Homo sapiens: one gene and its partner. The protein of the gene in region 2 purifies or fractionates together with the protein of the main gene of each other region. This does not show direct contact. Each region holds a gene or a part of one and is shown on either strand. Other genes may lie near its edges.

The links.
Region 1: the proteins of ZNF547 (region 2) and TUT1 purify together in Homo sapiens (affinity purification with mass spectrometry; one large-scale study listed by BioGRID and IntAct). This does not show direct contact.

Annotation. Positions count from the first base shown.
Region 1 is NC_000011.10:62,577,944-62,581,738, reverse strand, and holds part of TUT1 (speckle targeted PIP5K1A-regulated poly(A) polymerase), read left to right. Parts: intron 1-37; coding exon 38-353; intron 354-532; coding exon 533-633; intron 634-2,708; coding exon 2,709-3,178; intron 3,179-3,795. UniProt on the Homo sapiens protein: Poly(A) polymerase that creates the 3'-poly(A) tail of specific pre-mRNAs. Localizes to nuclear speckles together with PIP5K1A and mediates polyadenylation of a select set of mRNAs, such as HMOX1.
Region 2 is NC_000019.10:57,362,041-57,366,552, forward strand, and holds the start of ZNF547 (zinc finger protein 547), read left to right. Parts: upstream 1-1,510; 5' UTR 1,511-1,663; intron 1,664-2,774; exon of another isoform or gene 2,775-2,793; coding exon of another isoform or gene 2,794-3,216; exon of another isoform or gene 3,217-3,365; intron 3,366-4,512. Other genes in the region: TRAPPC2B (trafficking protein particle complex subunit 2B), read left to right, coding at 2,794-3,216. UniProt on the Homo sapiens protein: May be involved in transcriptional regulation.

The DNA of each region.
Region 1 (3,795 bases), on a different chromosome or scaffold from region 2:
TTCCAAAATCATCATCTCTGCCCCTGTTGTTTACCAGGGAGTGTTTGCCATTGTGGAGATGGGGGACGTGGGTGCTCGAGAGGCTGTCTTGTCACAGTCCCAGCACAGCCTGGGAGGACATCGCCTGCGTGTCCGCCCACGGGAGCAGAAGGAGTTCCAGAGCCCGGCCTCCAAATCCCCCAAAGGAGCGGCCCCCGACAGTCACCAGCTGGCCAAAGCGCTAGCTGAGGCTGCAGACGTGGGGGCACAAATGATAAAGCTTGTGGGGCTGAGGGAGTTGTCCGAGGCCGAGCGGCAGCTTCGCAGCCTAGTGGTGGCCCTGATGCAGGAGGTCTTCACAGAGTTCTTCCCTGGTAAGTTACCTCCCCTACTATGTCTGAGCCCTCCCTGGCCTTTGCTCTCCTGTGTCTGTATCCCCAGTCCTTCCTCCGCTAGAGGTGTTTGGTTGCTCTTCCATCTTTGTGCTCTGTTTTGTTCTTCCCCCTGCTCCTCCCTAACTTCTCTTGACCTTTCTTCTCTGCTCGGCACCCAGGCTGTGTGGTCCACCCTTTTGGCTCTTCCATAAATAGCTTCGATGTCCATGGCTGTGATCTTGACCTCTTCTTGGATCTGGGTGACTTGGAAGAGCCCCAGGTGAGTGAGTGTCCCAGGGAGGCAGCTGGGAAAAGTCCATGAGAATGGCCATGTGACTGTGGGCAAGTCCTTTAGCTCTCCATGTCTTAGTTCCTCATCTACAATGCAGATAATAGGACCTACCTGAAAGAGTTTATTGTAATTGGAGAGATGTGAATATGGATGAGTATTAGATAGGATGAAAATGAACTGACAGGGCCAGGCGCAGTGGCTCGCGCCTGTAATCCCAGCACTTTGGGAGGCTGAGGTGGGTGGATCACCTGAGGTCAGGAGTTCAAGACCAGCCTGGCCAACATATAGTGAAACCCCCATCTCTACTAAAAAAAAAATACAAAAATTAGCTGGGTGTGTGGTGTACACCTGTAGTCCCAGCTACTTGGGAGGCCGAGGCAGGAGAATCACTTGAACCCGGGAGGCAGAGGTTGCAGTGAGCCGAGATTGTGCCACTACACTCCAGCCTGGGTGACAGAGGGAGACTCCTCAAAAAAAAAAAAAAAAAAAAAAGAATTGACATGGATACCTGGCAGTCATAACAAAAAAAAAATTTCAAAATGGTGTGTGCAATATGATCTTATTTTGGAAAAAATATATTTAAAATTATACAATAAGGTCCTTTTAGTTTTGCTTATGTGTATTTTTTTTTTTTGAGAGACCGTCTAACTCTGTCACCCAAAATGGAGTACAGTGCTGTGATCTCGGCTCACTGCAACCTCCACCTCCTGGGTTCAAGTGATTCTCGTGCCTCAGCCTCCCAAGTAGCTCGGAATACAGGCACACGCCACCATGCCTGGCTAATTTTTTGTATTTTTAGTAGAGATGGGATTTCTTCATGTAGGCCAGACTGGTCTTGGACTCCTGGCCTCAAGTGATCCACCCACCTTGGCCTCCCAAAGTGCTGGGATTACAGGAATGAGCTACCATGCCCGGCCACTTAACCTGTATTTTCTAACATCTAATGTACAGATTCTGTTTAGGAAAGGATTATTATTATTACTTAGAAATAGGGTCTCACTATGTTTCCCAGGCTGGTCTCGAACTCCTGGGCTCAAGGAATCCTCCTGCCTCATTCTCCCAAATTGTTGGGATTACAGGTTTAAGCCCCCATGCCCAGCCTATTATTATTTTCAAAAAATAGACTTGGCCGGGCGCGGTGGTTCACGCCTGTGTAATGCCAGCACTTTGGGAGGCAAGGCAGGTGGATCACCTGAGGTCAGGAGTTTGAGACCAGCCTGGCCAACATGGTGAAATGCTGTCTCTACTAAAAATACAAAAATCAGCCGGGTATGGTGGCACGTACCTGTAATCCCAGCTACTCAGGAGGCTGAGGCAGGAGAGACAGCTTGAACCCAGGAGGCGGAGGTTGCAGTGAGCCGAGATCGCGCCACTGCACTCCAGCCTGGATGACAGATTGAGACTCCATCTCAAAAAAAAAAAAAAAAAAATGGACTTTATTTTTTAGAGCAGTGTTAGATTCACAGCAAAAGTGAGCAGAAAGTAGTTTCTATATGCCTGCTGCCCCCGCAACAGGAGTTTTAAAATGTTTTATCATTATTTTTATCTTTCTCTACACACACACACTCTCTATTTATATTTTCTGAATCATCTGAGAGAAGGTTGCATGTATCACATTCCTTTACCCCTCAATACTTCAATGTGTGTTATGCAAGAACAAAGGTATTCTAGTGTAAAGGTATTCTAGTGTATAACCACAGTACCATTATCAAGTTGAGGAAATGTTACATTGACACAGATGTAAACCTTTACAGACTTTACAGTCCATACTCTAATTTGGTCAGCTGTCCTGTCAATGGACTGTTACAGTTTCTCTTTCGTCTGTAATAGTTCCTCTGTTTTTGTCTTTCACGACAATGACATTTTTTGCAGAGGTAGACCTTTTATTTTATAGAATTAAAAGGTTATCTTTAAAAAAAAAAAGGGTTCCTGTGAAGATTAAATGAGTTAATATGTATAAAGACCTTAGAATAGAGCTGAATAAGCTGGAAGTAATATTATCTTGAGAGATCCCTGCTTAGGGAACAGCAGAAACATTTCACTCAGTTCATTTCTGTCCACAGCCAGTCCCAAAGGCTCCAGAATCTCCATCGCTGGACTCGGCCCTGGCTTCCCCACTGGACCCTCAAGCCCTGGCCTGCACCCCAGCTTCCCCTCCAGATTCACAACCTCCTGCTTCTCCCCAGGATTCTGAAGCCCTGGACTTTGAAACCCCTTCCTCCTCCCTGGCGCCCCAAACTCCGGACTCTGCCTTGGCCTCCGAGACCCTTGCTTCTCCCCAGTCTCTGCCTCCAGCTTCACCACTGCTAGAGGACAGGGAAGAGGGGGACCTGGGGAAGGCCTCGGAACTAGCAGAGACCCCAAAGGAGGAGAAAGCAGAGGGGGCAGCAATGCTGGAGCTGGTGGGATCCATTCTCCGGGGCTGTGTCCCTGGGGTGTATCGAGTCCAAACTGTGCCCTCTGCCCGGCGCCCTGTGGTCAAGTTCTGTCATCGGCCTTCAGGTCTCCACGGTGATGTCTCCCTCAGTAACCGGTACCTTTCTTTTTTTTGAGACGACATTTCACTCGTTGCCCAGGCTGGAGTACAGTGGTGCCATCTTGGCTCTCTGCAACCTCTGCCTCCCAGGTTGAAGTGATTCTCCTGCCTCAGCCTCCCAAGTAGCTGGGATTACAGGCATGCGCCACCACGCCTGGCTAATTTTGTATTTTTAGTAGAGACGGGGTTTCTCCATGTTGGTCAGGCTGGTCTTGAACTCCCGACCTCAGGTGATCACCTGCCTCGGCCTCCCAAAGTGCGGGGACTACAGGCGTGAGGCACCATACCTTTCTTTGGGGCAGGCCAGCTGAGAATTCTGGGATGGGCCAGGAGAGTCTGGCTTGGGAAACTCCTGCACCTGCCAAGTCTCAAGTTTGTCCTTGTTTGGGACCATCCCTCTTTCTGTCCCTTATCTCCTCCTGCCTGGCTTCCATTTCAGTGTTTGTAAAGTGTGTTCCTTAGAATACTACTTTTTTTTTTTTTTTTTTTTTTTTGTGAGACGGAGATTTACTCTTGTTGCCCAGGCTGGAGTGCAATGGTGCGATCTCAGCTCACTGGATCCTCTGCCTCCCAGGTTCAAGCGATTCTCCTGCCTCAGCCTCCCGAGTAGCTGG
Region 2 (4,512 bases):
CCCTGTCCCTACTAAAAATACAAAAAAATTAGCCGGGCGTGGTGGCACGCGCCTGTAAAGCCAACTACTCGGGAGGCGGAGTTCAAGAATCGCTTGAACTCCGGGAGGCGGAGGTTGCAGTGGGCCGAGATCACGCCATTGCACTCAAGGCTGGGCGACAAGAGCGAGACTCCTCCAAAAACAAAAAAAAACCCACCATCCTCCTGGGCAGCAAGTCATACCCTCCCGCCGCGCCCCCTGCCCCCCACCCCTGACCCCTCTCATCCAGGCCTATAATTGCCCCAGCCTGTAAGCAGTGAGGGGTTCTGGCACTAAGCTAGTTCTCCCCATCACAGGTCTCGTGCTGGACATAAAACCTGCATTGCTGTAGAGCTGCCAACTCTGCCTTTCTTTAACCCTCGCCTTCCCTTCAAAACCTAACAGTTATTATTAATAGATTTCTGTAATTTTCATTTCACAAGTATTTTCACAGATAATTTCAACTCCCTGTAAAATGATAACTCACTTCTCAGGAAGGAGATAAGATCATGAAAGTTCACAGTTTTTATTGGGGATAATACGTTCCCTGTGTACATATACTCCAACTATGGAATGGCACAAAATGTCCTGTCAGGAAATGGCATGTATCAGTCACTCTCATTTTCAGACAGGATTGAGACTTTTAAAATAAATGTAAAATATTTCAGACATGAAGTAATAAGTATTATTAGAATAAAAGCATTGCACTCTTGGTAGGAACACAATCACTGACTCTACAGACAGTAATGATGTTTTCTTCTGGATCCAGAGGCACAGCGTCACCCTTTCAATCTACGTCGGTATCTCCTGTCTTCTTTTGTGCAAATTCCCAGCCATGTAGTCTTTCTTTGTTCTCTTGGACCAACCATATTGAAGCTTAATAAATAGAAGTCAAAGTTTAACTGTATGTGTATTTGAAAAGCAACATATGGCTGAGAGGCATGAGTAGAGACAGAGTGCCTTTGTGGTATAGTGTGTCCCTTTGGCGGTGTAGCCGTTGAGAACTTGCTGTGCTTCACAATCCGATATCATAGGTCCCTCACATTTCTGTGAGTATCCTAGACCTTACTTCAAGAAAATCTGGTTATGTCGCCTTTAAGAGCAACCCAAGCCCCGTCCTGTCCGTGGAGTCCGGCACTCTGTTTACCAGCTCCCCTGACGGTGCCACTGAGCCTCTATCCGCCATATAAGGACTGACCAACGCTCTAAGGCAAGTCCAGAAGCGGTGTCGAAACTTCATAACCCAGAAGACACTGCGGTTCTCGGCAGCGCGACTGACCCAATGAATGTGCAGGAAGGAACCTTTGCGTGCGTGCGTGCGTGCGTGCGTCCGTCCTCGTGCTCGCGCATCGTAGGAGGGCGGGACTTCCGGCGTCCTCTTGCCGTGGTTGATTTGATTTTCTCTGGTGTTTTCACTAGTTCCGGCCTTTGGCGCTCTATGACGTCACCGAAGTGACGGAGCGGAAAAGCGCGAGAAGCGGCTTGGTTCCTTGTACGCAGAGGCGGTAGTGACACAGGCACAACTGACAGTGGCAGAAGCTCAGCTGACAAGGACTGGGGACGGCGGTGTCCTTGTCTTGCCTTTGTCGCCCCCGCCCCTCTCTTCCCTGGCTGGACTTGCGGAGTCCCCGCCGAAGAACCCGAGGTGGGTGCCCCGTCCCAGGCCCCCCCCCACCTCCGCCCGACCCCTCCTTCCAGTGCTGAAGCCCATAGAAGGGGCCCTGCAGGTCAGGCCCCTTGTCTCGAAGAGAGGGGCGTTCCTGTGTGGGGTCCCCGTATCAGCTGGTTTGATGCAGCCTCAGAGCTCCCTTCGGGGATCTCAGGTTCAGAGCATGGAGGTGCTGCCAAGTGGGCCGCGTCGGGGAGCCCGGAGTGTGGGTTGTTTCTGCGGGAAAGAGAGGGTTTTGTGAATTTTCTCTTGGAATGGCAGCCTGAGCAGCCGGTATAACCATGGAAGGTTGTCAAGGGAAGACCAGTGGGAGGGGCAGGTCCAGAGTTAGAACGAGCAGGATGGGGAATTGACACAGAGAGACCCAGAAGAGGCCACTGCAGTGGATCCCAGAGGCTGCACCAGAGCCGTGGTATAAGAGGGACAATGTGATGGGATTCTGGATAGACCTGGAAGATAGAGCCAACAGGTTTTCCTGCCGTATCAGATATGTCTGTGAGCAAAAATAGGGAGTGAAGGGTCATTTTTTTTTTTTTGCCCGAACATCTGAAAGAATGAAGTTGGGGAAGTCAGCAGCATGAGAAGTAGGTTTCATGGAGAAGATCATGGGTTGGAGTTTGGCCAGTGTGATTCTCAGGCGTCTCAAGTTGAAAATGTCACATGGGTAGGGGGACAGAAAGGTGTGGAGTCTACAGAGGAGAACTGGTGTAGATTCTTCAAAAGAATAGAGGGTGGCCGGGCGTGGTGGCTCACGCCGGTAATCCCAGCACTTTGGGAGGCCAAGGCGAGCGGATCACAAGGTCAGGCGTTCAAGACCAGCCTGACCAACATGGTGAAACCCCGTCTTTAGTAAAAATACAAAAATTAGCCGGGGGTGGTGACGCGCGCCTGTAATCCCAGCTATTCGGGAGGCTGAGGCAGGAGAATTGCCTGAACCCAGGAGGTGGAGATTGCAGTGAGCCAAGATCGCGCCATTGCACTCCAGCCTGGGCGACAGAGCGAGATTCCGTGTCAAAAAAAGGTGCGGAGCGCGGGTCTCTTCCGCGGAAACTGACATTGCGTTTCCGTTGTCGGCCTCCCGCTGCAGGAGCCATATATTGAAGACCATGTCTGGAAGCTTCTACTTTGTAATTGTTGGTCACCATGATAATCCAGTTTTTGAAATGGAGTTTTTGCCAGCTGGGAAGGCAGAATCCAAAGACGACCATCGTCATCTGAACCAGTTCATAGCTCATGCTGCTCTCGACCTCGTAGATGAGAACATGTGGCTGTCGAACAACATGTACTTGAAAACTGTGGACAAGTTCAACGAGTGGTTTGTGTCAGCATTTGTCACCGCGGGGCATATGAGGTTTATTATGCTTCATGACATAAGACAAGAAGATGGAATAAAGAACTTCTTTACTGATGTTTATGATTTATATATAAAATTTTCAATGAATCCATTTTATGAACCCAATTCTCCTATTCGATCAAGTGCATTTGACAGAAAAGTTCAGTTTCTTGGGAAGAAACACCTTTTAAGCTGAATGGAGAAAATTCCAAAATAAATTATATCACCACAATGGTGTATACTCAGGAATGTGTACATTGTAAATTACTTGATTAAATAGCCTGGAAATCTTTTGTGTATTCTCAGCTTATCTAAACTTAATGAAATTTCTTTTATATTTAAAAATAGTACATTCTGTCTCATGTCACATATCAGTAGATCAATTAGTATTTCCTTGTGAACAATGTTATTTATAAAGAACTCATTATCAATAATAATTAATTTCTTTCTTTTTTTTTTTTTTTTGAGACGGAGTTTTGCTCTTGTTGCCCAGGCTGGAGTGCAGTGGCACAGTCTCGTCTCACTGCACCCTCCGCCTCCCAGGTTCAAGCAATTCTGCCTCAGCCTCCCGAGTAGCTGGGATTACAGGCTCCCACCACCATGCCTGCCTAATTTTTTTTGTATTTTTAGTAGAGACGGAGTTTCGCCATGTTGGTCAGGCTGGTCTTGAACTCCTGACCTCGTGATCTGCCTGCCTCGGCCTCCCAAAGTGCTGGGATTACAGGCATGAGCCACCACTCCCGGCCATGAAATATTTTTACTTAAAAATTGGGAATAAGCTTTCTTTTTCTTTCTTTCTTTCTTTTTTTTTTTTCTTTTGAGATGGAGTCTGGCTCCTGTTGTGCAGGGGCTGGAGTGCAGTGGCACGATCTTGGCTCACTGCAACCTCCACCTCCCGGGTTCAAGCAATTCTCCTTCTTCAGCCTCCCAAGTAGCTAGGATTACAGGCATGCACCACCACGCCTGGCTAATTTTTGTATTTTTAGTAAAGACGGGATTTCACCATATTGGTCAGGCTGGTCTTGAACTCCTGACCTCGTGATCCGCTCGCCTCGGCCTCCCAAAGTGCTGGGATTACAGGTGTGAGCCACTGCGCCTGGCCATGAAATATTTTTTACTTAAAAATTGGGAATAAGCTTTTTTGTGTGTGTGTGTATGTTTTTGTTTTTTTGTTTTTGAGATGGAGTCTTGCTCCTGTCATGCAGGCTGGAGTGCAGTGGCACGATCTTGGCTCACTGCAGCCTCTGCCTCCCGGGTTCAAGCAGTTCTCCTTCCGCCTCCAGAGTAGCTGGGATTACAGGCATACGCCTGGCTAATTTTTGTATTTTTAGTAGAGACAGGGTTTCGCCATTTTGGCCAGGCTGGTCTTGAACTCCTGACCTCAGGTTATCTGCCTGCCTCGGCCTCCCGGAGTGCTGGGATTACAGGTGTGAGCCACTGCGCCTGGCTGGGAATAAGCTTTCGACTTGCCCAATTCAGATAAATTGTTTTT